Linked DNA regions of Homo sapiens. The protein of the gene in region 4 interacts with the protein of the main gene of each other region in a biochemical or structural test. Each region holds a gene or a part of one and is shown on either strand. Other genes may lie near its edges.

Evidence for each region.
Region 1: the proteins of LRP1 (region 4) and PDGFB form a complex in vitro, tested with the Homo sapiens proteins (one study listed by BioGRID).
Region 2: the proteins of LRP1 (region 4) and GULP1 form a complex in vitro, tested with the Homo sapiens proteins (one study listed by BioGRID).
Region 3: the proteins of LRP1 (region 4) and BDNF form a complex in vitro, tested with the Homo sapiens proteins (one study listed by BioGRID).

What each region holds. Positions count from the first base shown.
Region 1 is NC_000022.11:39,227,964-39,234,985, reverse strand, and holds part of PDGFB (platelet-derived growth factor subunit B isoform 1 preproprotein), read left to right. Parts: intron 1-1,461; coding exon 1,462-1,551; intron 1,552-3,158; coding exon 3,159-3,364; intron 3,365-4,757; coding exon 4,758-4,902; intron 4,903-7,022. UniProt on the Homo sapiens protein: Growth factor that plays an essential role in the regulation of embryonic development, cell proliferation, cell migration, survival and chemotaxis. Potent mitogen for cells of mesenchymal origin.
Region 2 is NC_000002.12:188,287,160-188,294,886, forward strand, and holds the start of GULP1 (PTB domain-containing engulfment adapter protein 1), read left to right. Parts: upstream 1-4,714; 5' UTR 4,715-5,007; exon of another isoform or gene 5,008-5,452; intron 5,453-5,668; exon of another isoform or gene 5,669-6,021; intron 6,022-7,040; exon of another isoform or gene 7,041-7,234; intron 7,235-7,727. UniProt on the Homo sapiens protein: May function as an adapter protein. Required for efficient phagocytosis of apoptotic cells. Modulates cellular glycosphingolipid and cholesterol transport. May play a role in the internalization and endosomal trafficking of various LRP1 ligands, such as PSAP.
Region 3 is NC_000011.10:27,655,434-27,662,455, reverse strand, and holds part of BDNF (neurotrophic factor BDNF precursor form isoform a preproprotein), read left to right. Parts: intron 1-2,183; exon of another isoform or gene 2,184-2,300; intron 2,301-2,797; exon of another isoform or gene 2,798-3,870; coding exon of another isoform or gene 3,871-3,891; coding exon 3,892-4,635; 3' UTR 4,636-7,022. UniProt on the Homo sapiens protein: Important signaling molecule that activates signaling cascades downstream of NTRK2. During development, promotes the survival and differentiation of selected neuronal populations of the peripheral and central nervous systems.
Region 4 is NC_000012.12:57,194,483-57,201,504, forward strand, and holds part of LRP1 (prolow-density lipoprotein receptor-related protein 1 preproprotein), read left to right. Parts: coding exon 1-21; exon of another isoform or gene 22-94; coding exon 95-217; intron 218-502; coding exon 503-619; intron 620-788; coding exon 789-917; intron 918-1,175; coding exon 1,176-1,298; intron 1,299-1,380; coding exon 1,381-1,521; intron 1,522-1,604; coding exon 1,605-1,795; intron 1,796-2,499; coding exon 2,500-2,683; intron 2,684-2,816; coding exon 2,817-2,902; intron 2,903-3,062; coding exon 3,063-3,182; intron 3,183-3,673; coding exon 3,674-3,861; intron 3,862-3,982; coding exon 3,983-4,188; intron 4,189-4,729; coding exon 4,730-4,918; intron 4,919-5,394; coding exon 5,395-5,543; intron 5,544-5,959; coding exon 5,960-6,053; intron 6,054-6,216; coding exon 6,217-6,333; intron 6,334-6,551; coding exon 6,552-6,671; intron 6,672-7,014; coding exon 7,015-7,022. UniProt on the Homo sapiens protein: Endocytic receptor involved in endocytosis and in phagocytosis of apoptotic cells. Required for early embryonic development. Involved in cellular lipid homeostasis.

The DNA.
Region 1 (7,022 bases), on a different chromosome or scaffold from region 4:
AGCTGGGCCCACCTATTGTTCGCCAGGGCCCCCACCCGATGTCTCCCACAACCCCCACCCTATGCCCGACTGGCCGCCCCTGGCCACACACAATGGGGCAACTTCCAAATTTAGCCTTTCTACCATTTCTTTCCAAGCCTTTACACCCCCACCCTCAGACGGCCCCTCCACACCCCTGGTGGGGGTCGGGATCTTGGAGATGAGGTTTCAATAGCAGGCCTGTTTCAAGGCAACCATGTGGCTATTTTTTCCTAATCAACTTAACCTTTCCACAAAGCGCATCTTTTCCCCATCTCCTCCCCACCAGGGACATTCCAGAGATGGCAGGGAGAAAGGAAAGGAGCCAGAGGGACAGATAGGCTCGTTGACGTAGGGGCTGTCAGGCTGGACGGAAGCGGACTAGTCATCAGACTCCCTGCAGTACCCGGGACGGACAGGCGGCAGGCGCCTTTGTCTTGGATGGGGCCAGTGGGTCGGTGCCAGAACTGGAGCCATGGGGTGCTGTGTGGAGGTGGCAGGAGCGTGTTCCCAATGCCCCTTAGTTTATTTGTGGCTCCTCACCCATGAGAGAGACAGAAGGGTCTGTCCACGCCTTAACATCCAGCTCAGAGGCCTCCCTCAGCCCTCACTTCCCAGCAGCCAACCTCTGGCCATGGGCTCTGGAAAGGACCGATGTCTCCAAGGAGGGCTGATGGGACTGAGATGGTGCCCAGGCTAGAAAAGGGAGCTGTCATTTGTGACCAGAGGAATCAACAGACGGCTGGGGGCAGAGGTGGGGCAACAGTTTAGAGAAGGGGAGGGAGACAGACACAGATACAGATACGGTGTGAGGGCCCCGGAGCTAGAGAGACCAGGCCCTAGAAGGGTGTGTGGCAGGGACTCCCCACCCCCAGCAGGCCCAACTCCCACCCCTCTTCTCCTCTTCTCTGTCTTCAGCTCCCACCCCCATCCCTCTCCCTCCCTCCCTCCCTCCGTGGCTCCCGCCTGCCCAGCGCGGCCATTGTCCGGGGCTCCAGAGGGGCTGTGTTCAGGGCATGCGGTCCCCCTGGGGCTTCTGGGAATTTCTCCATTCAGCACTTCCTATGGGAACGCTGGGTGGAGGGGCACTGGAAACTGGCCTTCAGTGCCCTAGGTCCCGGCCCCGCCCTGGAGGCCGAGGAGGGTTCACTTACAGTAGCAAAGGGGAAGGGTTATTTTTAACTCCACTGACATGGGTTCTGGCCAAAAATGTTGGCTAAAGAGCCAGGGATGCAGTCAGGATCCTGGGCCTGCAGCTGTCCTGGGGGCTGCTTGGAGGGTCCCTGCTCAGGGCCAGGACCCGTGCATTTATGGGGGCTGGAAGGAGGGACTGTTCTCTGGAGTGGGGGAGAGGCAAACCTCCCGCCTGCCCAGACACCCCGGCGGAGGGAGCCCCTGCCCAAGGTGGGGCCGCCTGGTGTCTGACTGTGACTTCTCCTGCAGAGGAAGATGGGGCCGAGTTGGACCTGAACATGACCCGCTCCCACTCTGGAGGCGAGCTGGAGAGCTTGGCTCGTGGAAGAAGGAGCCTGGGTAAGACTGAGACACCCAACAAGGGTCCTTCAAATTAGCATGGGGGCCAGGGAAAGAGAACGGGGGCGGGCAGCCAGTCGGAGGGCCCCGAGGGTCCTCTTACAACTCCCGTTCCCCCCACATTCAGGACTGAGCGAACTGAGAGAGTAAAACCATCCTTAAATGCCTGTGTTCAGTCATCACAGCCCCTCGCCCCCACACTCTCTGGTTTCTAAATATAGTGCTGCAAAGCTCATTCGTTCCTTATTTCAATCCTGGAGGTAGATATTATTAACCCCATTTCACAGAGTTGGAAACTGGGGCCCAGAGAGGGTAAAGAACTAGGCGAGGTCACACTGCTAGGGAGCGGTAGGGCTGAGATCCCAACCTGCTCCCCTCACTTGAACCCAGCGTGGTCCCTGATGGGCTATGGGTATCTCCTGTGGCAAAGGGCCGCGGCCTAGGCTGGTAGACCTCGAGCAAAGCCTGGAACTTCCTCCTGCTCCCTTGCAGAGACCTAAAGGAGACCGTAGATCATTAGGTCCCAGAGAAACCCTCCCAGGTGAGGCAAATGTCCACTCAAACCCCTCCTCCTCTTTGACACCTGGAGTCCCCAAAACACTGCAGTTAGAGGCTGGGGGAACGATGAATAAGAGTCAGGTGGCCTGGGCCGGGCATGGTGGCTCACGCCTGTAATCCTAGCACTTTGGGAGGCTGAGGCAGGCAGATCACGAGGTCAAGAGATGGAGATCATCCTGACCGACATGGTGAAACCCTGTCTCTATTAAAAATACAAAAATTAGCTGGGCGTGGTGGCAGGTTCCTGTAGTCCATGCTACTTGGGAGGCTGAGGCAGGAGAATTGCTTGAACCAGGGAGGCGGAGGTTGCAGTTAGCCGAGACCACGCCACTGCACTCCAGCCTGGCGACAGAGCAAGACTCCGTCTCAAAAAAAAAGAAAAAAGTCAGGTGGCCTGAGTTCCACCCCCAATCTATGAATGTGGGCGGACGGGATATTCAGCTCTCAGAGCCTCCTGTCCTCTGTACATGGATAGCATCGGTAACCTCAGTGCTTGCTGTAGGCAAGGCTTACTCACTTTACACCTTAGATCCACATGGGAGGGAGGTGCTGTTATTATCCCATTTCATAGAGGAGGAAGCTGAGGCTTTGAAAGCAGCAGTGATGCAGGAATCCAAGGCACCGTGAGACAGCAGTGCACGCGTGGTTTCGAGCTAATATGGTACCTGCATAAAAACCACATGTTGGGCAAGCCCATAAATGTGTAAAATCATAAAGAAGAATAAAATAGTCATGTGCCAGCAGAGGGAAGCGGACATTTACTAAGCATTTACAACATGCCCCACACTCTGAATTTTCTCACTTGAAACTACAGTGGTTCTTGGGTGTAGATCTCATGGTCCCATTTTCAGATGGGGAAACACAGGCTTAGAGTGGCTCAGCCATCTGCCCAAGTCCCATGGCTAATGACAGCCAGGACTTGAAACCTGAACCCTGGGGTTGAAGGGCGTGAGAAAGAGCAGTCCCGGAGGCACCCGCTGAGCTCCCCTGCCAAGTGGGGGGACTCTGGACAGGCCTACGCTCCTGACCCAGGTTTCGTCTCCTCCCAGGTTCCCTGACCATTGCTGAGCCGGCCATGATCGCCGAGTGCAAGACGCGCACCGAGGTGTTCGAGATCTCCCGGCGCCTCATAGACCGCACCAACGCCAACTTCCTGGTGTGGCCGCCCTGTGTGGAGGTGCAGCGCTGCTCCGGCTGCTGCAACAACCGCAACGTGCAGTGCCGCCCCACCCAGGTGCAGCTGCGACCTGTCCAGGTGCGTAGGCTCCGCGGCCCCCCGAGGCTGGTCCCGGTGGTGGGTGGAGACCACCCTTCTGGGGCTCATACCTGACCAGGCTTCCTTGACTGGGCAGAGTGGTGTGTCGAAGGACATTCCTGATTTGTTCCTGGGCTCTGTCCAGAGAGGCCCACTCTTGGGAAGCTCTTCCTAGGCAGGTGGACTGAGGCCGACCATGAGTCCTCTGAGGTGGCTCAGGCCACTGTAGCCAAAAGCCACAGACAGACCCCCCGGGCTGGGCGAGGTGTGGAGCCAACGTGAAGTAGGGATGTCACCTCCTTTACAAGGACAAAATCGCAAAACGTCCCTTGAAGAGCCGTATCCGCAAACATTTATCTGACACTCAGAATGTTTTGGGGAGCTACTCAGGTTCCCCCAAAGCTCTCCCTATTCAGGGCTGTCTTGAGAAAGGCTCAGATGGGTGGCCCTGCATCTTTGACACCTGCTTGTCTCTCTTTGACAAGCTGTGTCTTTAATAAAGAGAGTGCAGAGAGGCCCACCAGGTGATAGACACTGCGGAGCTGGGGCAGGTCCCCTGACAACAGTGGAATGCTGATCCTGCTTTTCTTCGGAGGGACGGGGGATACATACACTGGACTCAGGGAAAATTCTAGAGTAGAGGCTGTCTCAGGGAGCACCCTGGTCTCACCCTAGTCGGGGCAGAGTCAGAGAAGCTGCTGCTTCTGCTTCTTGTGGAAAGATTCCTGCACGCCCCAGGCCAGCCTCGCCCACAGGCTGGGCAGTGCGCATTTCTCTAGCTCAGCACCGGCCCTTGCCCGATGCTCTGCCTGCTTAGCCGCACTTCCTTCTCCTGCCACCAGCCCGTGGCCTCTCCTCCTGCCCACCTTCCCTCCCTGGCTTGGGCCCCACGCCTGAGACTACGAATGTCACTCCACCCCACTGCCCACTCTCGTGGTATCTCCTGTCCTCGATGCTTCCAGCTCTATGGATGGACACCTGACATCTGACCTCCCCGTTCCCACCTCCCTCCTAGATGAAGCCTCCCCCCACTTCCTTCCAGACAACCATCTCCCGCCTCTGCCGCAGCCCTGACCTTGGCTGGCGCTCCGGGAATGAGGATACCGCAGGCCCCAGCTCAACCCGGAAATGCCTTTCTGGCTGTCCCTCTCTGGGGGCACTGAGGGGGGCCCCAGGTCGGGAGGGCTTGTTTTGATGGAAAAGCTACGAGAAGGGCAGAGGTCAAGGTCCTGCTATTGTTTGGGCCAAAGCTTTTGCCCCACAGCCTGCTCTCCGGGCTTTCGAGGAAAGATTGCTGCAGGGGACACCGGGGTGGGAAGCGCAAGCCATTCGGGCTTCCCGGGCTCCTGGCTGTGTGGTCTCTACAGAGGCATTTTGTGGCTCTGTCCTCCAGGTGAGAAAGATCGAGATTGTGCGGAAGAAGCCAATCTTTAAGAAGGCCACGGTGACGCTGGAAGACCACCTGGCATGCAAGTGTGAGACAGTGGCAGCTGCACGGCCTGTGACCCGAAGCCCGGGGGGTTCCCAGGAGCAGCGAGGTAACCACCTTTCCAGGCTCAGCCCTCAGCCCCCTTCCCCTGCAGCAGCTGGGGGCAGGGGCCGGTCTTAAAAATGGAAATGGGATCAGGCCCGCCCCCGGTTAAATTCACGGGAGGCTTTCTTTTCATCTTGCTGAGACACAAGCCAGGTTCCTCCCTGGCCTGAGAGCCCTACATGAGGATTAGCCCCTGGCTGGCTCTCTGGTCTCTGCCAACCAGTACCCTTCACCTGTGCCACCCCCGCCGGGCAGGCCTCTTTCAGTAACTAATGGAGTTTCTGCCTCAAGGCTTTAGCACACACTGCTGTGGCTGAAGAACACTTCTCCCAGCTCTCCACAAGCCTAGCTCCTTCTCTTCATTAGAGTCTCAGCTCAGAAGTCACCTCCTCCTAGAAGTCTGCCCTGACCACCCCATCCAGAGCAGCGCCATTTCCAGTCTTGCTACCATAGCCCCCTGCTTTGTTGGATGTGGGGATGGGATGGTGGAAGGAATCTGGGCCTGGATGAGAGAAAGCTCCGCGCACATCAACTTCCGATAGTGAGCAGCTTGTCCTGGGGATGAGAAATCAAACGAATTTCTCGTATCCTTGAGCGGGGGAACCAGGACCAGTGGGGAGAAGCCACTGGAGAGAGATTTCAGCTCCATATGCAGAACAGCTAGCTGGTGATCAGTCAGGGGTGCAAGGTGGAATTGGCAGCATTGTGAGGCATCTCTACAAAAAATACAAAAATTAGCCAGGCATAGCGGCACACGCCTGTAGTCTCAGCTACTTAGGAGGCTGAGGTGGGAGGATCGCTTGAGGCTGGGATGTCGAGGCTACAGTGAGCCGTGATGGCACCACTGCACTCCAGCCTGGGCAACAGAGCAAGACCCTGCCTCAAAAAAAAAATGATTAATACGATTAGATGAGCGTTTAAAAAAATCACGTAAGTGATAGTTCTTTTTCAGTAACTTTCTATTGTTAGGGACAGGACAATCTTTTCATTCTCATTTCTTATTAACAAGACCCTGAAGACGGAGCCATTTCTTGGCATCTGTGTCTTATTCCCAGAGCTGAGCTGAGTCGCTGGATGCCATGGAAAGGCTGATCATATGACAGCTTCAAACTGACATGTTGTAAATTATTGAGTTAATATGGAGGGTGATTTCTCTATTAAGGGAAAATTATATATATCTATATATATATATATTTTTTTTGAGGCAGTCTCACCCTGTCACGCAGTCTGGAGTACAGTGGCACAATCTTGGCTCACTGCAACCTCTACCTCCTGGGTTCAAGCAATTCTCCCGCCTTAGCCTCCCGAGTAGCTGGAATTACAGACACATGCCACTACACCCGGCTAATTTTTGTATTTTTAGTAGAAACGGGGTTTCACCATGTTGGCCAGGCTGGTCTTGAACTCCTGACCTCAAGTGATCCACCTGCCTCGGCCTCCCAAAGTGCTGGGATTACAGGCGTGAGCCACCACGCCCAGCCTCTTTCTTTTTTAAGAGACAGGGTCTCTCTCCATCACCCAGGCTGGAGTGCAATGGCATGATCATAGCTCACTGCAGCCTTGAACTCCTTCCTGGGCTCAAGCGAGCCTCCCTCCTCAGCCTCCTGAGTAGCTGGGATTACAGGCATGTGCCACCACGTCCAGCTAATATTTTAAGTTTTTGTAGAGATGAGGTCTTGATTCGTTGCTCAGGCTGGTCTCTAACTCCTGGGTTCAAGTGATCCTCCCACCTCAGCCTCCCAAGGTGCTGGGATTACAGGCATTGAGCCACCACGCCTGGCCTTCTTTATGTTTAGAGTGAGTTACTTCATGTATTTGTTTGACGTAATTTTCTAAACCAGTTTCTTGGGAGGCGCATTATACCAGTGAAACGTAGATGATGTAAAGTCCCATCATTTTAGTTCCGGTATTTTGGTTGAGTATGACGGTGTTTCTGTCACCTGTCCATGGGCCTGGCTAAGGCTTGGTAGTGTGGCTCTCTGTGATAATGTGGTCAGTGTCAGACCTCCTGGGCTCAGATCTGCGTGTTGTCACTTGAGCTGTGTGGTGACCTTGTGCTTGCCTGGGCTTGGTATAGCCCAGTGTCCTGCTGATGGCCCAGGCTCTGGGGAAGAAACTCCCTGG
Region 2 (7,727 bases), on a different chromosome or scaffold from region 4:
ATCAATAAGAAAAAGAAAAAATATATGAAACAATAGAGAAAAGAGAAAAATGTACAGAATATATAAATAGCCACCTCACAAAAGAAAATATAAACGGTTATTAACTTTATGAAAACTTATTCAGTTTTATTAACAGTGAAAGTAATAAAAATTAAAGCGATTGAGCTGCTAATTTTTCACTAAGATTATTTGAAAATTTAAGTGTTTGGAGAAAAAAAATTAAGGGCCAAGATGGAATAGTTTACATGATGTCATTTAGGTAAACGAAAAATGCATATGAAAATAAATATTTTGAAAGAATACTTACAAAAAAGTAGTAGTATGGGCCGGGCGCAGTGTCTCACGCCTGTAAGCCCAGCACTTTGGGAGGCCGAGGCGGGCGGATGACGAGGTCAGGAGATCAAGACCATTCTGGCTACGGTGAAACCCCGTCTCTACTAAAAATAAAAAATAAAATAAAATAAAAAAATTAGCCGGGAGTGGTGGCGCGGCGCCTGTAGTTCCAGCTACTCAGGAGGCTGAGGCAGGAAAATGGCGTGAACCCGGGAGGCGGAGCTTGCCGTGAGCCGAGATCGCGCCACTGCACTCCAGCCTGGGCGACAGAGGGAGACTCCGTCTCAAAAAAAAAAAAAAAAAAAAAAAAAAAAGGAGTAGTATGTACGTTATACTTCCACATGAAAAAAATGGAAAGAAAATTGTTAAGTGTCTGTGGGTGCTGGGTAATGCCTTTCCTCTACTCCTGGTTTCCATGCAAAAATATTTTACTGGGTCTTTACTTACTTGCCCTTGGAGAGATGTTATGACATTTGGTAGATAAACTTAGGAATAAACTTGGGAAGAATTGCTGGGCATGCCAGGCTCAACTACCTTTCTCTCTCTTTCATTCTTTGGAATAGAACTCAAAAAACAATTTAAATCCTTTTTCAAAGGCACTGTCTCCTTTCAGGTTAGAAGGAGGCCAGGAACTACGTTGACTGAGGCTGCTGTTTCAGTTCTTTGCTTTTGGATCTACCAATTCAAATCCGTTATCTGTCAATCATAGAGTAATATTTTGCTCTCATTTTTTTGGTCAATTTATTCCCCACCCAGGCATAAAGAAGGGATACTATTTATCCGGGTCTCTCAGAGGCCTCAACAAACCTTGGAGCATATAGAGAAAATGTGAGCAATAGGTACTTTTGGTGATGGGAATACAGGTGATATTTATTTCCCTTTTGCAGTTGCCCTCCTATTTTTTTTTCTTTTTTTGCAATGGTCATGTTTCATGTTCTTAATCAAGAAGATCAAAATAAAGCGATTCTTTCAGAATGACAGATAAAATGATAGAGGTTTGAAGGTAAATGTAACACAGTAACTTTGGAACCCAGAGCCCCTAGGAACTCATAGGATATTTGGCCACTGTTACACATGACAAACAGAAACATGACCCCCTTTCAAATCACATGACTGAAATTTGAATTTCAGTCTTGGTTTTCATTACAGTTTTTAAAAAGTTGTCAAATACTTTAAATGTTGGTTTTGCAGAAATATAGGGCTAAACAACCAGCATATTTTTTGTGTGCTTTTGCAATAATCAGAAATAAAATTGGTTTTCTTAAGGTAAGTAACAGGTCGTTTTTTTGTCTTAGCCAAAGTTCCCTTAGTTAGGGTAAGAGAAACTTAATTCTGGTTTGAGCAAGAAAATTAATTTAAAAATACTGGAGGCCAGGCGTGGTGGCTCACACCTGTAATCCCAGCACTTTGGCAGGCCGAGGCGGGTGGATCACGAGGTCAGGAGATTGAGACCATCCTGGCTAGCAGAGTGAAATCTTGTCTCTACTAAAAATACAAAAAAAAAAAAAAAAAAAAAAAAAAATAGCCGGGCATGGTGGCGGCCGCCTGTAGTCCCAGCTACTCGGGCGGCTGAGGAAGGAGAACGGTGTGAACACGGAGGCGGAGCTTGCAGTGAGCCAAGATCGCACCACTGCACTCCAGCCTGGGCGACAAAGCAAGACTCCGCCTCAAAAAAAAAAAATAAATAAATAAATAAAAATAAAAATTACTGGAAAGCTGCTGAGTTTCTATCAGGGTCTATATGAACCTATGATGAATGTGAAGAACTTTCAAATGGAAATCTGAGGTATTTGCAGTAGGTAAAATTAGGCGTATTTGTCATCGTAGTGCCCTGCTAGGCTTCTGCAACCCTTTTCTTTGGCATCTCCCTTCTTCACTTCCTGGGGCATGCTATAAATTTGTTTTAAAATCTTGTTCCATTTGGTTCTATTGTTTTTAAAAACTTGGTTCTGACACTCTTGAGATTTTTATACCTCTAAGCCATTTCACAAAGAAGATCATATCAAAAGTCAGGTTATAAAAATTACAAAGCAATAGCAAGTTTAAAGACTTTAAACAGTGGGAGAAAATATAAAAGTGAGTAATCTTTAGCACTGTATGTAACGATTGGAAAAAGACAGTTATGAGGACTCATCTATCTTCATTTATCCATTCATGATGGATGTGCTTTGTAGCCATATTTTTTTTTCCCTCTTTAGGATCTTCCAAGTCTTATGGATAGGAAAGACAGATCTCTAAAGAGGCTATGATATGCCTTTAGGAAACTGAGGATGAGGCCGGAGTAGTAAATAACTCTTACTTAGAAGGAGTATATAGGGTCTCATCCCTGAGAACATGGGAGTTAGTTATGTAAATGTTCAGATGATTTTCAACATTGTATATGGTAAGGAAGAATTTTTTAAAAAGACCTTCTTACAGGTACTAGAGGCAAATGAATGAGAAATAAGTACATGCTATGGGATTTTCCATTATTTCACAGGATGGAAAGTTTGATCTCTGTAGCCTGATTTTGTTCTTTGGCCTTGAACTTGTTCAAGTTGAATTGTGTGTCCTGAACACTGATCTAGTTGTTCACAAACTAGGGTCAGCCAACTGTAGTGGTATGTTGATGTATTCTTGGGAATCGAGAGTTATTATAATCTTTTAATATTATGGCTAAAAAACCCAAAATATCTATGTGTAAATATATAATGTAAGCATGGATTCGTTCATCTCATCAACCTCCTTATTCCTAAATACTGGACTACCATTTGTTTTATTTTTATAATCACATTGATACCAAGTGATCATCTAAATGACATTATTTAATTTTTAATGATTGTTCATAAATTAATTGCTTAAGAGTTATTTACAGAAAAAAACTAGCATTTGTCCTGAGATTAATATTTTTAATATAATTATTTTTATGTGTGCTTGACTATTGTGATAAAGAGAAAAACAGTTAAAAGAGGACCCCAGCCAAGTTATTATGAGGACTGATTTCTGATATTAGCTTTAGTACCTCCAAACCATGAGATTTGGGGAAAGTCACTTAAGAGCCCTAGACTTCAGTTACCTTGTATTTAAAATAAGGGAGTTCAGCTGGAACTAGTTAATCTGTAAACATAGTTTCCATTTCAAAAATTGTGAAATGATGCCTTTTTAAATGGAAAAAGCATTAAGGAGAAGAAAACTGATTCAGTTACAGGGTCTTTGGGGGAAAATTTCTAGCACCACCCTCTCTCCTAATTACAGTAAAACATGGTGGGATATAAGAACCAAATATTTATTGAGTATTTTCTCTGCGCCTATCACAACTCTATTTTAACTCCTGTAAATGTGACTGTGACTCCGTGAGCTAGATTATAGAATTCCTGTTGACAGTTATAATTGGTAGGCACAGAAAGCGTAAAGATGGAGTTTGGAATGGAATCTGGCCTGTCTGACTCTAAGCCCTGGATCCACTGTAATACATTATAACTGCTAGCTTTGCAAAATGCCTTTTTCCTTTTCTCATCTATTTTCACACTCAAACTAAAATTTAGTAAACTAAATTCTGAGCAGCAGAAAAAATTTTAGTAAAGGTCCTCTCATCCTTGAAGAACTTCTTATATAAGGATACTCCTTCTTGCTCCCTTTCCCACGCAGAACTTTACCAAAGGTCAGTAAGAATGGGCTGTTGTGTTTTCTCTCAAATCCTATACAGAAGTCCTTAATTCCGAGGTAAACATCTGAATGGAACAAATGAGTATGATCTGGGGGTTAAGGCAATTTTCAAGTGTGTGTATGTGTGTGTCTGTTTTAAGGCATAACAAAGTCCAGAGATTAAGGCCGAGTTAAAAAACAAATGAGGACAAACCAATGAGGACAAACCAGTCCGCTGAGGTGCGGCCAGAGCAGCAGCAACTGTGGCTGCTTTCTTGATAAAGGCTGTGAAGACGGCACGTTTTACTCTTATTCGTGTATTTCTTTTGACACTTTACCCCTCTATGAAGCCTCAGAGGTGTTTTAAAATTGTGTTAGGAAACACACAGAGATAAGAAAAGGCAAATGGTCCTGATCTAGTGTCTCAGGGAAGAGGCTGGAAAGGAAACGCGGCGCGAGTGGGGTGGGAGAGGGGGCCTGTGGTTTTGCTTCTGTCCGGGCTGAAGACTGAGTAAGGTAGGGCCCCTCCTTCTGCGGATGGGTTTCTCTCTCATTCCACCCTCCACCCACCTCCGGTTCCGCGTGCACGCGCGAGATAGTCCAGTGGGCCCACAGATAACGACCATCAGAGATTAAAGAAGGAAAGTCAGCGAGCTTGAACACAGGCGTCCCGTGTGGAAATGTCCAAGGAGACCGCCAGAAGTGCGCAAGCCGGAGTCGGCTAGAGTTTCCTTCTCACCGAGAGGGGGAGCCCGGCGTTCCCGGCCGGGAGCGACCCGGAGTCCCCAGCCCCGCGTCCCAGCTGCCGCCAGCGCCAGTTTTGGATTCGGCGGATTAGGAAGAGGAGGGAGGGGGGAGAGAGCGCGAAGAGGGAGGGGACCGAAGCTGGAGGGTCCCGAGTCCAGCGCCGTGTTGGCGTAGAGAAACTTTCCCTCTCGGCCTCGGAGACGGCGCCCCGGCCGTGCCGGAGTGGAGATCGCCAGGCTCGGAGGAACCGGCAGCTCTCCACGCCCCTGCCCGAAGCCTGACCCGACTGCCTCTCTCAGTGAGGTACGGAGATTTATCTAGGCTCTTCCCTGGCTGCGAACCCAGGCTCCCTCCAGGTAGCGTGGAATCGCTTAGAAGCTGATATCCCGAGGGGCGGTGGGGGTGGACAGCTCCGGCCACCAGTGCCCGGGAAGGAGGGCGCGGGGCTGCGCGTAGCCGCTGGCCAGCAGGTTGTAAAAAATTAGGACAGCTAAATGCTCAGGGAGTCGTCCAGCACTAAAGGAGGCTAAGACCTGTTGACGCCTGCTATGGCAGCGCTTGAGAAATGACTGGGGGAGTCCAGCGAGGTCGGGGACGCAGCGGTCTCCGGGCTCCAGAAACCTCCTTAGCCTTTTGTGGTAACTTTGGTCCGGCGGCGGGGGGCCGGTGAGCAGGAACTGGAGGGAGGCGGTGGGGAAACCGTGGATCCGTCCGGCTGAGGGTGCGTGGATCAGACTGGGCTGAGCAGGCAAGTCATCGTCGGGTCACAGCGAGGCGACCCAGGAGCGAACTTCCAGGGCAGCCTCCCTTTTGTTGGCGCTGGGAGAGAATGTGGGCATGGGGGTGGGGAGGCGCGAAGCTCCGAGGCCGGGCCGCGGATACTTTAAAGCTCAGAGCTGGGAGGGCCCAAAGGAAGGGGCGGCGTCCACATGGTTACCCTTCTGCTGCGCGGGTCAAGTAGCTTCTTCTGGAGGGCGCAAGGCGCGGCGGGGGTGATGAGCCCTTGGGTTCTCGCTCCGACTGCTAAATTCGCTTGGCCGGGTCCACCTTCTCGTGGCCTCACTCGCCACACGGATCAGAATCCGGAGCAGGCAGTTCTCTCTATTCTGAGGCTCCTGCGGCTGCCGCGCTGACTTCCCTGTGTGCGGGAGGGAACTCTGGGCAGGCTGGTTTTCTTGGAATGTGTTTACGATGTTGAATGGGACTTGAACAGGAAGCTGGACGCTGCAGCTGGAACTAGCGTGCCAAGGTAGAGTAAGGAAGACTTAGCTGGTGTTGGGCTTGGCGGGTCCACTTGGTACGCTGGGCAAACTCCAAGTAAGTGAGGGCTGGCAGTCAAGGTACCCCTCCCTAGGTCCTAGTAGTGTTTCCCAACTGAGCTCGCCTTACTCATTTGCAATCAGACATTTTACATGCACTATTTCAATCTGCAAGTTTGACAAAGTGTAATGCAGTCAATTAGGAAGGATTTAATAAATTTATTTTGTGCCTGCTTTTAAAATACGTTACACCAACATTTGAGAATAAAAAGTTACGGAGAATGTTCAAGTCATGACTGATTTCTAGGACTAGCAGGAGACAATACTGATGATTTTGTGTCTGTATTACAAAATGGGTGATTAGGTGCTAAAGTAAGGGAGATTATTAGACAGAGTGAATGTGAGGAAGTGGAAAACTTTCAGAGGAATTGGAAATTCTTCAAATTTGCAAATTGCTCCCTTTCTCTGCCAGTCTTTCCCTTTTCCCCCCATATGAACAAGTAGCCTTGGCTGGAAAACCCACAAATTGGGAGAGTGCAGTCGCTGGTGACTACAGGCTTTGCTGGAAACAGCAGACAGGCTAAGGTACTGCCCCACTGCATAATTAAAGGTCTCCTTGAGCTGTCCAGGAGTGTTTTCCAAGTTTTTACGACTGACAAGGAAAAAAAGAGAGGAACCTGGCCGGCAGCCAAACTAGACTGAGCTCAGTAGCCAGGCATGAAAGAGACTGGGCAAGTTGCAGGGGCTAATTGGAAAGGGGCTGTCGGTTGCACTTGGGGTTTAAACAAGAGGTTTCTTTTGCAATGAGAATTTTTAGGTGGCTAAGATCAGTCTTCTTGGCAAAAAAATAAACTAAGCATAGAGTGCAGTTGGATATGACCGAGGAAATTACAAAAAGGGCTCCAGGAGCAAAGTCTGAACTTTCCTTATCAGTGTTGCAGTGGAATAGCTGGGGGCCTGATGCTGTTTGTGCTGATCATACTTTGCAAATGCCCACACTTTGTTGCTGTTTGTCTCCTTGGACGAGGTTTGCTGCAACTTCAATTCCTTGACTTCGGCCTTACTTTGTTTTCATAGCAGCAAGAATTGAAGACTTAAGGGTTTGAGCAGATGGTTTTCTACCTAAATTGAATAATTCAATTACGTATTCTCAGCTAGCATGGATTTGGGTCATGGAATTAAAGTAGAAACGTATCCGGCATGACTTCTTTGTGCTTATCAAAAGTGATCCTGATAAACAGATCTTGCTCTTTCATGTAAAGAAGTAAAAGGTGAGATGATCTCAGTATTTCACACATTTGCCCTTTACTGCTTCCTAATTCCAAACCAGCTAGGAACTCAAAGCCTTAACTGCAATTCAGACTCTTCTTTGTGTATTAAAGTTGTGTATGTTTCATCTCTCTTTTTTTTTTCTTCAGAGAGGTGGGTTGTAGGTTTACTATTGTGGGCTTAGGGGTTAAATGGTTAAAACAAACAAACAAACAAACAAACTAATGTGGTTTATATTTCCTCTGTATTTAAGAGTTTGAGATTGTGAATATTAGCCTGCTTTCTGAGACTCACTTTGTGAATCACCCTCAGCCAAATGTTTTCCCTGACTATGATTTCAGTTTTTCCACTTGCAAAGTAAAGAAACTTTCCTTTACATAATTACAAGATTATTGTGAGAATTAAAGAGATGAAATAATGTTAATAGGCTTTTCGACATAAAGGTCATAGGATTTCTGACTCAGCTGACTCAGTTGAGTTTATGGGGATAAAATA
Region 3 (7,022 bases), on a different chromosome or scaffold from region 4:
TTCAATGGGTTCACTGATCTTTCCAAATGAAAAGGCTTCTTACGAAAATTATATCCAAACTGTCTTTTCTCTTAGTTTAATAAACCTATCAGTAAGTTTTTACTGAGTACTGCTATTACATTTTTCTCTGTTAAGCATTATGGGGGCTCAGACATGATCCATTCCCTCAAAGAACTTACCTTTCAGCTGAAGACTGACTAGAATGAGCAAATACGGTTAACAATTAACAAGTGAGTAGGCCAGCTCGGCCAACATGGTGAAACCCTGTCTCTACTAAAAATACAAAAATTAGCCGGGCATGGTGGTGGGCGCCTGTAATCCCAGCTACCTCCTGCTGAGGCAGGAGAATTGCTTGAACCCAGGAGGTGGAGATTGCAGTGAGCCGAGATTGCACCATTGCACTCCAGCCTGGGCGACAGAGCAAGACTCTGTCTTGGGAAAAAAACAAAACAAAACAAGTGAGAAGGGAATCAAGTACTACGTAAGATGTAATGTGGAATTTTAGGGAAGGAAGGCAGTGTATGCTGGAGTAATTAGAGAAAGGGGCATGCATGATTTGATGCTTGAACTGGATCATGAAGGATAAGCAAGATTTTGGCAGCAAGTGAGAGGGAGAGAGGAGTTTGTCAGAGGAATGGAACAAGTCAGGAGGCAGTAATGTGTACGGCACTCCAAGGACTCTGTCCTGATCGGAGCAGAAGTGATGAAGCATTGAGTAGTTTGAGAAAGTTAGCTAAGAAGGGTGAGGGCAGATGTTGGAGAGAGTTGAGTATCAGAGAGAAGACATTAGATTTGAGCAGATAGAACAAAAATGCCATTGCCAGTTTTTGTGTAAGAGAATAGTATTAGGGTGGTTACCCAGGAAGTGGTCATCAGAGTTGAATGGAGCAGAAAGAGTGTCTGATACAGCATCGGGACGTTGTGGTCACAAAATGAGGTGGTGAGGGCTGAGCCAAGATGGTGGCAGTGGGATGGATAAAAAGGGATGGCCAGGACAAATATTTTAAAGGAAAAATTAACAGGACATCTTTACTGACTGGATTGGAAGGCTATGCAGGAAATATATTGTCAAACTTGATTCCAGGATTTCTATCCTATGCCTGGGTTGCCCAAAATATCAGGGAACCATTGTTAGAAAAGGTAGGAGATACCACTGTTCCAACAAAAAGTATTGAGTTTGGTGTTGCACCCACTTAACTTCAAGGCCTTACAAGTGAGTAGACAGTTAGTTAGAATTGCAGAAGTGCCACTCAGAGAGCAGGGCTTGCAATGTGGGGTTGGACTTTGTCACCATTGTGTTAATTCCTAATTCTATGCAGATGCTCAGCTTGAGGAATACCCATGTTTGGGCTTCAGAATGAAAGCCAAGTAATATTTACTCAGATGCCAATTTTCCCTCTGAAATATTTGCTCATGGAACTGAGAGAACAATATATAAAGCATTAATTATTTTTCTCATAAAGTTATTAATAAAAAGATAAGATCAGTGAAAGGCAGAGTAAACTAGAAGCCAAGTATAGAAAATGGTATCATTCAAAGACTCATTACTGTAGTGGTGAAAACAAAACAATTTTCCAACAGCTTAAGATGCCTCAGTATTTTGGACCATTTTTAAGTAGTTAGTGTGGGCACTTAGTAAATATGTATTAAACTATAGTTCATTAATTCTTTTTTTTTTTTTTTTGAGATGGAGTTTCACTCTGGTCACCCAGGCTGCATTTTTGCTTTCTTAGTGATATATAAAATGTCGAGTTTCACAATGATGGTATCTTAGATTTGATTAAATATGGTATTAAAAAATAGCTGATCACAGAAAGTCTCTACCAGTGTGATGTAGATGGCTAAAGTATTCCACATTTGCAAACTTTTATTGACCTAAATAAGAGGTGCCCCTTGGGTTGTTTTTATTTGGACTGGGAATATTAGGAGAAAGCTTTTTCATTCAGTGTGTAAGTACAATCTACCAGAAATAGAAACCCCCATGGACGATCTATTTCTTTGATGGTACAGGACTCAGAACATTCACAAAGATTTAGTTGTTAGCGGAATAGACATCTGTATTTTATTCAAACCAATTTTCCCTTCCTAATCTGAGAACATTGTGCAATCTAAGCAGTTCTAAGCATGTTTGCTATTCGTGCAAAGTGAGAGTAAATCTAAAAGAAATTTTTTTGTGTGTTTAGGGATGGTAATAAAGTCTCTTAGTGGTTGAAAATGTTATTTCTTACAAAAGTGGAGAACATTTGCTTTTCAATACCAGAGTTTTCAGCCATTTCTGCATTCTGACCTATTGACTGGAGGTAGGTTGCCTTTGAATTCAGTAAAACTTCATGGGCAGAAACACAGTTCCTTTTCCTACTTATTTGGATATCATGATGGCCATTGCATGTATGTGTCTTTTTGTAAGTCCATGCCTCAGAACTGAGAAGTAGGAATAAAATTAGGGTCAGGGCTGGGGATGCTACTCTTTGCTGCTGAGAAACACAATGCTTCAGGTAAGTGATTCTGAAGTCCTTCACCACCTGACGGTAACCTTGGGTTGGTCCATAGGTATGTTTTCATTTTGCTTGTTCATCCATTTTAATTGGCTTCCTAGAGCATGCTTGTAGATGTAGAGCCAAATTTAGAGTAGAGCAACCCTCTGGCAAACAGGAAGAGATTAATTTTGTGGTATGCTTTTAAGGGACTTCCCAGGAAACTTCAAAAGCAGAAAAAGAAGCACTAGCTGCCTATTCCAAAATGTGTAAAACACCACTCAGCTTTTTAAAAGTAGGATAAACTCAGAGCGCGCGCACACGCGCGCGCGCACACACACACACACACACAGAGAGAACATCTCTAGTAAAAAGAAAAGTTGAGCTTTCTTAGCTAGATGTGTGTATTAGCCAGAAAAAGCCAAGGAGTGAAGGGTTTTAGAGAACTGGAGGAGATAAAGTGGAGTCTGCATATGGGAGGCATTTGAAATGGACTTAAATGTCTTTTTAATGCTGACTTTTTCAGTTTTCTCCTTACCAGACACATTGTTTTCATGACATTAGCCCCAGGCATAGACACATCATTAAAATGAACATGTCAAAAAATGATTTCTGTTTAGAAATAAGCAAAACATTTTCAGTTGTGACCACCCAGGTGTAGAATAAAGAACAGTGGAATTGGGAGCCCTGAGTTCTAACATAAACTTTCTTCATGACATAAGGCAAGTCTTCTATGGCCTTTGGTTTCCTTACCTGTAAAACAGGATGGCTCAATGAAATTATCTTTCTTCTTTGCTATAATAGAGTATCTCTGTGGGAAGAGGAAAAAAAAAGTCAATTTAAAGGCTCCTTATAGTTCCCCAACTGCTGTTTTATTGTGCTATTCATGCCTAGACATCACATAGCTAGAAAGGCCCATCAGACCCCTCAGGCCACTGCTGTTCCTGTCACACATTCCTGCAAAGGACCATGTTGCTAACTTGAAAAAAATTACTATTAATTACACTTGCAGTTGTTGCTTAGTAACATTTATGATTTTGTGTTTCTCGTGACAGCATGAGCAGAGATCATTAAAAATTAAACTTACAAAGCTGCTAAAGTGGGAAGAAGGAGAACTTGAAGCCACAATTTTTGCACTTGCTTAGAAGCCATCTAATCTCAGGTTTATATGCTAGATCTTGGGGGAAACACTGCATGTCTCTGGTTTATATTAAACCACATACAGCACACTACTGACACTGATTTGTGTCTGGTGCAGCTGGAGTTTATCACCAAGACATAAAAAAACCTTGACCCTGCAGAATGGCCTGGAATTACAATCAGATGGGCCACATGGCATCCCGGTGAAAGAAAGCCCTAACCAGTTTTCTGTCTTGTTTCTGCTTTCTCCCTACAGTTCCACCAGGTGAGAAGAGTGATGACCATCCTTTTCCTTACTATGGTTATTTCATACTTTGGTTGCATGAAGGCTGCCCCCATGAAAGAAGCAAACATCCGAGGACAAGGTGGCTTGGCCTACCCAGGTGTGCGGACCCATGGGACTCTGGAGAGCGTGAATGGGCCCAAGGCAGGTTCAAGAGGCTTGACATCATTGGCTGACACTTTCGAACACGTGATAGAAGAGCTGTTGGATGAGGACCAGAAAGTTCGGCCCAATGAAGAAAACAATAAGGACGCAGACTTGTACACGTCCAGGGTGATGCTCAGTAGTCAAGTGCCTTTGGAGCCTCCTCTTCTCTTTCTGCTGGAGGAATACAAAAATTACCTAGATGCTGCAAACATGTCCATGAGGGTCCGGCGCCACTCTGACCCTGCCCGCCGAGGGGAGCTGAGCGTGTGTGACAGTATTAGTGAGTGGGTAACGGCGGCAGACAAAAAGACTGCAGTGGACATGTCGGGCGGGACGGTCACAGTCCTTGAAAAGGTCCCTGTATCAAAAGGCCAACTGAAGCAATACTTCTACGAGACCAAGTGCAATCCCATGGGTTACACAAAAGAAGGCTGCAGGGGCATAGACAAAAGGCATTGGAACTCCCAGTGCCGAACTACCCAGTCGTACGTGCGGGCCCTTACCATGGATAGCAAAAAGAGAATTGGCTGGCGATTCATAAGGATAGACACTTCTTGTGTATGTACATTGACCATTAAAAGGGGAAGATAGTGGATTTATGTTGTATAGATTAGATTATATTGAGACAAAAATTATCTATTTGTATATATACATAACAGGGTAAATTATTCAGTTAAGAAAAAAATAATTTTATGAACTGCATGTATAAATGAAGTTTATACAGTACAGTGGTTCTACAATCTATTTATTGGACATGTCCATGACCAGAAGGGAAACAGTCATTTGCGCACAACTTAAAAAGTCTGCATTACATTCCTTGATAATGTTGTGGTTTGTTGCCGTTGCCAAGAACTGAAAACATAAAAAGTTAAAAAAAATAATAAATTGCATGCTGCTTTAATTGTGAATTGATAATAAACTGTCCTCTTTCAGAAAACAGAAAAAAAACACACACACACACAACAAAAATTTGAACCAAAACATTCCGTTTACATTTTAGACAGTAAGTATCTTCGTTCTTGTTAGTACTATATCTGTTTTACTGCTTTTAACTTCTGATAGCGTTGGAATTAAAACAATGTCAAGGTGCTGTTGTCATTGCTTTACTGGCTTAGGGGATGGGGGATGGGGGGTATATTTTTGTTTGTTTTGTGTTTTTTTTTCGTTTGTTTGTTTTGTTTTTTAGTTCCCACAGGGAGTAGAGATGGGGAAAGAATTCCTACAATATATATTCTGGCTGATAAAAGATACATTTGTATGTTGTGAAGATGTTTGCAATATCGATCAGATGACTAGAAAGTGAATAAAAATTAAGGCAACTGAACAAAAAAATGCTCACACTCCACATCCCGTGATGCACCTCCCAGGCCCCGCTCATTCTTTGGGCGTTGGTCAGAGTAAGCTGCTTTTGACGGAAGGACCTATGTTTGCTCAGAACACATTCTTTCCCCCCCTCCCCCTCTGGTCTCCTCTTTGTTTTGTTTTAAGGAAGAAAAATCAGTTGCGCGTTCTGAAATATTTTACCACTGCTGTGAACAAGTGAACACATTGTGTCACATCATGACACTCGTATAAGCATGGAGAACAGTGATTTTTTTTTAGAACAGAAAACAACAAAAAATAACCCCAAAATGAAGATTATTTTTTATGAGGAGTGAACATTTGGGTAAATCATGGCTAAGCTTAAAAAAAACTCATGGTGAGGCTTAACAATGTCTTGTAAGCAAAAGGTAGAGCCCTGTATCAACCCAGAAACACCTAGATCAGAACAGGAATCCACATTGCCAGTGACATGAGACTGAACAGCCAAATGGAGGCTATGTGGAGTTGGCATTGCATTTACCGGCAGTGCGGGAGGAATTTCTGAGTGGCCATCCCAAGGTCTAGGTGGAGGTGGGGCATGGTATTTGAGACATTCCAAAACGAAGGCCTCTGAAGGACCCTTCAGAGGTGGCTCTGGAATGACATGTGTCAAGCTGCTTGGACCTCGTGCTTTAAGTGCCTACATTATCTAACTGTGCTCAAGAGGTTCTCGACTGGAGGACCACACTCAAGCCGACTTATGCCCACCATCCCACCTCTGGATAATTTTGCATAAAATTGGATTAGCCTGGAGCAGGTTGGGAGCCAAATGTGGCATTTGTGATCATGAGATTGATGCAATGAGATAGAAGATGTTTGCTACCTGAACACTTATTGCTTTGAAACTAGACTTGAGGAAACCAGGGTTTATCTTTTGAGAACTTTTGGTAAGGGAAAAGGGAACAGGAAAAGAAACCCCAAACTCAGGCCGAATGATCAAGGGGACCCATAGGAAATCTTGTCCAGAGACAAGACTTCGGGAAGGTGTCTGGACATTCAGAACACCAAGACTTGAAGGTGCCTTGCTCAATGGAAGAGGCCAGGACAGAGCTGACAAAATTTTGCTCCCCAGTGAAGGCCACAGCAACCTTCTGCCCATCCTGTCTGTTCATGGAGAGGGTCCCTGCCTCACCTCTGCCATTTTGGGTTAGGAGAAGTCAAGTTGGGAGCCTGAAATAGTGGTTCTTGGAAAAATGGATCCCCAGTGAAAACTAGAGCTCTAAGCCCATTCAGCCCATTTCACACCTGAAAATGTTAGTGATCACCACTTGGACCAGCATCCTTAAGTATCAGAAAGCCCCAAGCAATTGCTGCATCTTAGTAGGGTGAGGGATAAGCAAAAGAGGATGTTCACCATAACCCAGGAATGAAGATACCATCAGCAAAGAATTTCAATTTGTTCAGTCTTTCATTTAGAGCTAGTCTTTCACAGTACCATCTGAATACCTCTTTGAAAGAAGGAAGACTTTACGTAGTGTAGATTTGTTTTGTGTTGTTTGAAAATATTATCTTTGTAATTATTTTTAATATGTAAGGAATGCTTGGAATATCTGCTGTATGTCAACTTTATGCAGCTTCCTTTTGAGGGACAAATTTAAAACAAACAACCCCCCATC
Region 4 (7,022 bases):
GTGATGAGCGCGACTGCCCAGGTGGGCGGGGGCAGGTGTGTGGTGGGTGGTGGCCTGCGGTGAGCAGGGCCCTCACACCTGCCTCGCCCCCCAGGTGTGAAACGCCCCAGATGCCCTCTGAATTACTTCGCCTGCCCTAGTGGGCGCTGCATCCCCATGAGCTGGACGTGTGACAAAGAGGATGACTGTGAACATGGCGAGGACGAGACCCACTGCAGTGAGTGACCACTGCACCCACTCAGTGCTCCAAGAGCCTGCTGGGCCCCACTTCTTAGTCCCCCCCAGCAAATGCCCCCTTGGAAAAGGGCATCCAGAGCCTTCAACCCCCTGCCCCACACCCCAACTCTTGAGGTCAGACTCAGAGACTCTGCCTCTAGCTGCTGCTGAGCCCCCCCACAGAGGGGTGCTGTGGGCATCTCTCCTGTCCTTCCCATGGCATCAGCCTCCCCAGGTGGGTGACCCCCACCCTTCCCCATCTAACTGTGGCTTCTGACTGCCCCAGACAAGTTCTGCTCAGAGGCCCAGTTTGAGTGCCAGAACCATCGCTGCATCTCCAAGCAGTGGCTGTGTGACGGCAGCGATGACTGTGGGGATGGCTCAGACGAGGCTGCTCACTGTGGTAAGGAAGCTGGGATTGGGCCGGGGGAGGTGCCCCAGGGAGGGACAGACCCCACCCAACTCCACCCCACACACAGACACCCCTGCAGACGACGGCGAACCATCACCTCCACTGCTAGACCTGATCTACCCGCTCCTAAGTCTCTCAGTGGCCCTCTCTCCCCCTACAGAAGGCAAGACGTGCGGCCCCTCCTCCTTCTCCTGCCCTGGCACCCACGTGTGCGTCCCCGAGCGCTGGCTCTGTGACGGTGACAAAGACTGTGCTGATGGTGCAGACGAGAGCATCGCAGCTGGTTGCTGTGAGTGGCGGGGCCACGTGGAGCGGGTGGACAGCAAATGGCCACAGTCTCACTTTGCAGATGGGGAAGCCGGGGTGCAGGAGAGGAAATGCCTCAGCGGGGTCCACTGGGGGCGGAGCCATAGCTGTAGCCCAGGTGTCCAGACTCCTCATCCAGTGCCCTGCCCACTCTACCAGGAGAACCACAGGAGGTTAGAGTGAGGGACGGTCGGCCGCTGGCCAGGCAGGGCTGAAGGGCTGTGTCCACCTCTGTCCACAGTGTACAACAGCACTTGTGACGACCGTGAGTTCATGTGCCAGAACCGCCAGTGCATCCCCAAGCACTTCGTGTGTGACCACGACCGTGACTGTGCAGATGGCTCTGATGAGTCCCCCGAGTGTGGTGAGCCTTCGGCGGTGGTGGGAGGAGGCCCTGCCCTCTGCCGGGCCAGGGCATCAGCCTCACAGGTCCATTCCTCCCCCAGAGTACCCGACCTGCGGCCCCAGTGAGTTCCGCTGTGCCAATGGGCGCTGTCTGAGCTCCCGCCAGTGGGAGTGTGATGGCGAGAATGACTGCCACGACCAGAGTGACGAGGCTCCCAAGAACCCACACTGCACCAGCCAAGGTGGGCCCCAGACCTGGCTCCCCTCTGCCCCCTCCCCAGACTGCCTGAGACCCCGCTGACCTGCCGCCTCCGCCCCTCCGCAGAGCACAAGTGCAATGCCTCGTCACAGTTCCTGTGCAGCAGTGGGCGCTGTGTGGCTGAGGCACTGCTCTGCAACGGCCAGGATGACTGTGGCGACAGCTCGGACGAGCGTGGCTGCCACATCAATGAGTGTCTCAGCCGCAAGCTCAGTGGCTGCAGCCAGGACTGTGAGGACCTCAAGATCGGCTTCAAGGTATGCCCAGCCCTGGGGAGGAGCTTCCACACCCCAGACGTGCCAGGAACGCCTTTCTCCACTGCCTTATTCATTCATTCATCCCCTAGACAGTGGGGATACAGCAGTGAATGAGACAGAAATCTGCTTGGTTGGGGTCTGCCTCTATCTGGCAGGTAGAGAGCCAGCAGATTTGCTGACAGATGAGATATGCAGTGTGAGAGGAAGAGAGGAGTGAGGCATCAAGTAGGCAAGAGATACACAGGTCTGGAGTTCAAGGAGAGGCCCAGGCTGGAGAGGGAAGTCTGGGAGTTATCACCATAGAGATGCTATTTGAATCTGTGAGCCTGGATATGATTCCCAAGGGAGCAGTGTAGGTGGAGAAGAGAGGAGTCCAAAGTCTGAGCCCCGAGCTGAGCAACAGCCAGGAGCAGGGAAGTGAGGGGACCAGCAGAAGAGCCTGAGAAGGAGCAGCTGCTGAGGCAGGAGAACAGCCACGAGAAGAAAGCATTTCCATGGGGAGGGCACACGCAGCTCTGTCAAATGACACTCGGGGGCACACAGAAGGAGGCCTGCACTGTGGGCCAGCTGGGTGGGCTCAGTACCCATATGCTGCTGCCCCTAGTGAGGCCGGGTAGAGGGAATTGGAGTCTCTGAGCCAGGTCTCCAGGGTGGGAGGCCCAGACCCTGCCACATGCCCAGCCCAAGGCTCCCTGTGCCTGCAGTGCCGCTGTCGCCCTGGCTTCCGGCTGAAGGACGACGGCCGGACGTGTGCTGATGTGGACGAGTGCAGCACCACCTTCCCCTGCAGCCAGCGCTGCATCAACACTCATGGCAGCTATAAGTGTCTGTGTGTGGAGGGCTATGCACCCCGCGGCGGCGACCCCCACAGCTGCAAGGCTGTGACTGGTGAGATGCGCGCTTGGAGGGCATGAGGTGACCCAGGCTGTGTGGGACTGCCCGGGTGGCAGAGCTCCAGACAGGCAGGAGACCAGGGCCGCTAGAATGTGCCAGGAGCTGAGGCAAGATCCTCTGTCTGCAGACGAGGAACCGTTTCTGATCTTCGCCAACCGGTACTACCTGCGCAAGCTCAACCTGGACGGGTCCAACTACACGTTACTTAAGCAGGTACCAAACCCAGGCCCTCCTCCCCGCTGCCCATCTCCCAGACCCAGCACAGCCTCCCTTGCAAGTCTCCCCGCTTAGGTCCAACCATCCCTCCCCCAGATGCAAATGTGGCCCCTGTTGCCACAACCGACTTCTGCTGTCCTTCACTCCCCAAATCCAGGGCCTGAACAACGCCGTTGCCTTGGATTTTGACTACCGAGAGCAGATGATCTACTGGACAGATGTGACCACCCAGGGCAGCATGATCCGAAGGATGCACCTTAACGGGAGCAATGTGCAGGTGAGGCGGGCGGCCCTCGGCGACCAACACTGGCCCGCCTCAGATGACTGTTTTCAGATCGTCTCTCCTTCCCGCCCCACCAACCCAAATTGCTTCCTTCTCACTCCACTAGTCACTATATGACTGCTTGTTCTAGCTGCTCACTCTCCTCTGGGCCCAGACAGCAAGGACTGGGAGATTCCTCTTGCCCTTCCCCTCGCTGCCAGCCTCATGTCTCCTTAATCATCAGGAAGTTCCCTGTGAGGTCTGGCCAAGCACTGTGAGGCTTGGGGCGTGGTCCCATTCACCTAGAGCCCCCTCTCCTAGAGCCTCTGCTGACACCTACACAGTGTCAGGCCCAGGACTGGGCATTTTACTTCCATGGTTCTCCCACCAGAGCTGTCAGAGGGAGCTCTACCCCATTTTACACGAGGGGAGGCTGAGCCTCACAGAGGCTTGCAGGTCCTCCCCCAGGTCACCCAGAGCTCTCCCTCCCCTGCCCCTTCCTGCAGGTCCTACACCGTACAGGCCTCAGCAACCCCGATGGGCTGGCTGTGGACTGGGTGGGTGGCAACCTGTACTGGTGCGACAAAGGCCGGGACACCATCGAGGTGTCCAAGCTCAATGGGGCCTATCGGACGGTGCTGGTCAGCTCTGGCCTCCGTGAGCCCAGGGCTCTGGTGGTGGATGTGCAGAATGGGTATGTGGCTGAGGAGGGTTGGGGGAGCCCCTGAAAGCAGCATCCAAGCCCAGCCTCCCTGCAGGCCACTGGTGCGATGGGTTACGGGATCTCCCAGGGCTCACTGCCTACCCATCGCCAGGTACCTGTACTGGACAGACTGGGGTGACCATTCACTGATCGGCCGCATCGGCATGGATGGGTCCAGCCGCAGCGTCATCGTGGACACCAAGATCACATGGCCCAATGGCCTGACGCTGGACTATGTCACTGAGCGCATCTACTGGGCCGACGCCCGCGAGGACTACATTGAATTTGCCAGCCTGGATGGCTCCAATCGCCACGTTGGTCAGTGTGCCAGTGAGGCTGTCCAGGCACAGCAGACTCAGTGGGGATGGAGGTCTGAAGCGACAGGGGATCAAGTTTTGGGGGCAAGAGTGGACATAAAAAGCGGAGGATATGGCCTGAGGACACCACTCACTGGGGTGTGGGGTTCAGAGCACCCCGGGGGCTTCCCCAGCCTGGCCACCACCCAGCTCCCTTGGGAAGGAAGAGGAGAGGCCCTTCCCTTGTATACACAGTTCTGGAGGACTGGCCCCAAGGAGGGTGGGGGTGGGAGGCCTGCGATTGAGAACTGCAGTGCTCCCCACTTCCCGAGGGGAGCCATACACTGGCAGGGCAGGAACTTGCCATGAGGCAGTCTAGGTTTGAACTCCAGCTCTGACACTTGTTAGCTGTGAGACCATGGGGGGTCTGTACCATGAACCATCTGTAACTGGGGCTGACACCCACCTCTCAGGGTGGTGGTAGGGCTTGAGGAGGTGGAGTGGGCCGGCACCCTGTCCGAGCTCCGGCTGACTGGCACTGTGCCTGCCCCTTGGCCCTGCAGTGCTGAGCCAGGACATCCCGCACATCTTTGCACTGACCCTGTTTGAGGACTACGTCTACTGGACCGACTGGGAAACAAAGTCCATTAACCGAGCCCACAAGACCACGGGCACCAACAAAACGCTCCTCATCAGCACGCTGCACCGGCCCATGGACCTGCATGTCTTCCATGCCCTGCGCCAGCCAGACGGTGAGCAGGCAAGGGGTGGGAGCAGGCGAACGGTGAGCCAGGCACCGGGGTCCCTGGGAGTTCCTGCTCATCCCTTCTCTAGCATTGACCAAGCCCTCCTGGCCAGACACTGGGAGACTCCAGGAGGGTCTAGACAGGGGATGGTCTGGCTCCCGGGAGCTTCAGCCCGGCCTGGATCCAGCCCTGGAGTCTGGCAGCAGCAAGTCCCTGAGGCCAGTCAAGTGGGGGTCTGGGTGCCCAGCCCCCAGAAGGAAGGCAGGCCGGCCCCTGGGAGGGAAGCACAGAGGAGGTGGGGAGCTGGCCTTCAGGCCTGGCCTGATCCTGGGACCTTAGAATCCTCTCCTATCTCCAGCTTCAGCTCCCTCCTAAAAGAGGCAGGGTTCAGACCCACCCGCCTCTGTCCAGGATAGAGTGAGTGAGGCAGCCTTTGGTAGGCCAGAAAATGTCACCATATTTCACGACGTTTTCTCTGGCAGTGCCCAATCACCCCTGCAAGGTCAACAATGGTGGCTGCAGCAACCTGTGCCTGCTGTCCCCCGGGGGAGGGCACAAATGTGCCTGCCCCACCAACTTCTACCTGGGCAGCGATGGGCGCACCTGTGTGTCCAACTGCACGGCTAGCCAGGTGAGGCTGTCCCCCAGACCCCATCACCAGTGCCCGCTCCCCAACCCCCAAATCCTCCTTGGACCCCAACACCTGCTCTGTCCTAATGTCCTCATGCATCTGGTTTTCCCACACTAACACCCCCACATTTCTTGCCTACCTCTTGTCTCCCCACAGCAATACTTTTACCCCCGTCACCTCACACAGACACCTCCACACCCTAACCTTGACCCTCCTTGCCATGCTTCAGTGCTGCCTTCCCCACCCTATCCCACGCAGCCCCATACCTGGCCTTTCCGAACTCACCATAGCCCAACCTGCCCCATAACACCCTGACCCCTGCCTCAACTTCTTTGAAACATCCAAGCCCCTCAAAAGAAAGACTTCTGAGTCCCCCAGACCCCCACCAACCCCTCTTGCCCCCACCTGCCCTCCAGTTTGTATGCAAGAACGACAAGTGCATCCCCTTCTGGTGGAAGTGTGACACCGAGGACGACTGCGGGGACCACTCAGACGAGCCCCCGGACTGCCGTGAGTGCCTGCTGGGGGTGACAGGAGGGCCCCCAGCTGTGTCGGAGGCCTGACTCCTGAGGCTTTGAATGGCCACTGGAGAGGCTGGGGCTGTGGTGCCCTGCAAGTGGACCTGGCCGTGTCCACCCCAGCCGCTCTGACTCTGAGCCTCCCTCTCTGGCAGCTGAGTTCAAGTGCCGGCCCGGACAGTTCCAGTGCTCCACAGGTATCTGCACAAACCCTGCCTTCATCTGCGATGGCGACAATGACTGCCAGGACAACAGTGACGAGGCCAACTGTGGTAAGGCGCTGCCCGCCCACCCTCCCTCCTTCCCCAGCATCTTCCCTGCCCCAGGATTTGGGGCTTTCAAGTGCAGGGAAGTTGCAGCCCACGGCAGCTTGCTCTCCAGGCTGGATTCCTATGGCTCAAGCCTGTGTCCTCCCTGCTGAGGGATGGGCACCCTCTCCCTGCCCCTGAGTCCTCCCTTCGCCACGAATCACCTCCTCCTCCCTCCACAGACATCCACGTCTGCTTGCCCAGTCAGTTCAAATGCACCAACACCAACCGCTGTATTCCCGGCATCTTCCGCTGCAATGGGCAGGACAACTGCGGAGATGGGGAGGATGAGAGGGACTGCCGTGAGTGTCAGAGGTGGTGGTGGGCCGGTGGTGGGAGATGACACGGAAGCAGGGCAGGCAGAATCTCCCCACAGCTTTGAGAGGCTCTCAAATAACTTTAGTAGATGGGCAACACAAATTATATTGGGTGTAACTTGCTTTGCTCATAAAAATCATCATGCATGATATAGAGACATAGAGATCCAGAAAACAAAAAGCACCAAAACTGGGGATAAACTGTTCCTTCCTCCGAAGAAGTTGCTGGCAGGACCAAGGCCAGGGCTTGGAAGAGAGAGAAGACAGTGATGGTGAACTGGAGTGGCAGGTGTAAGGGAGGGCCCTCATTCTCTTGCCCACCCCACAGCCGAGGTG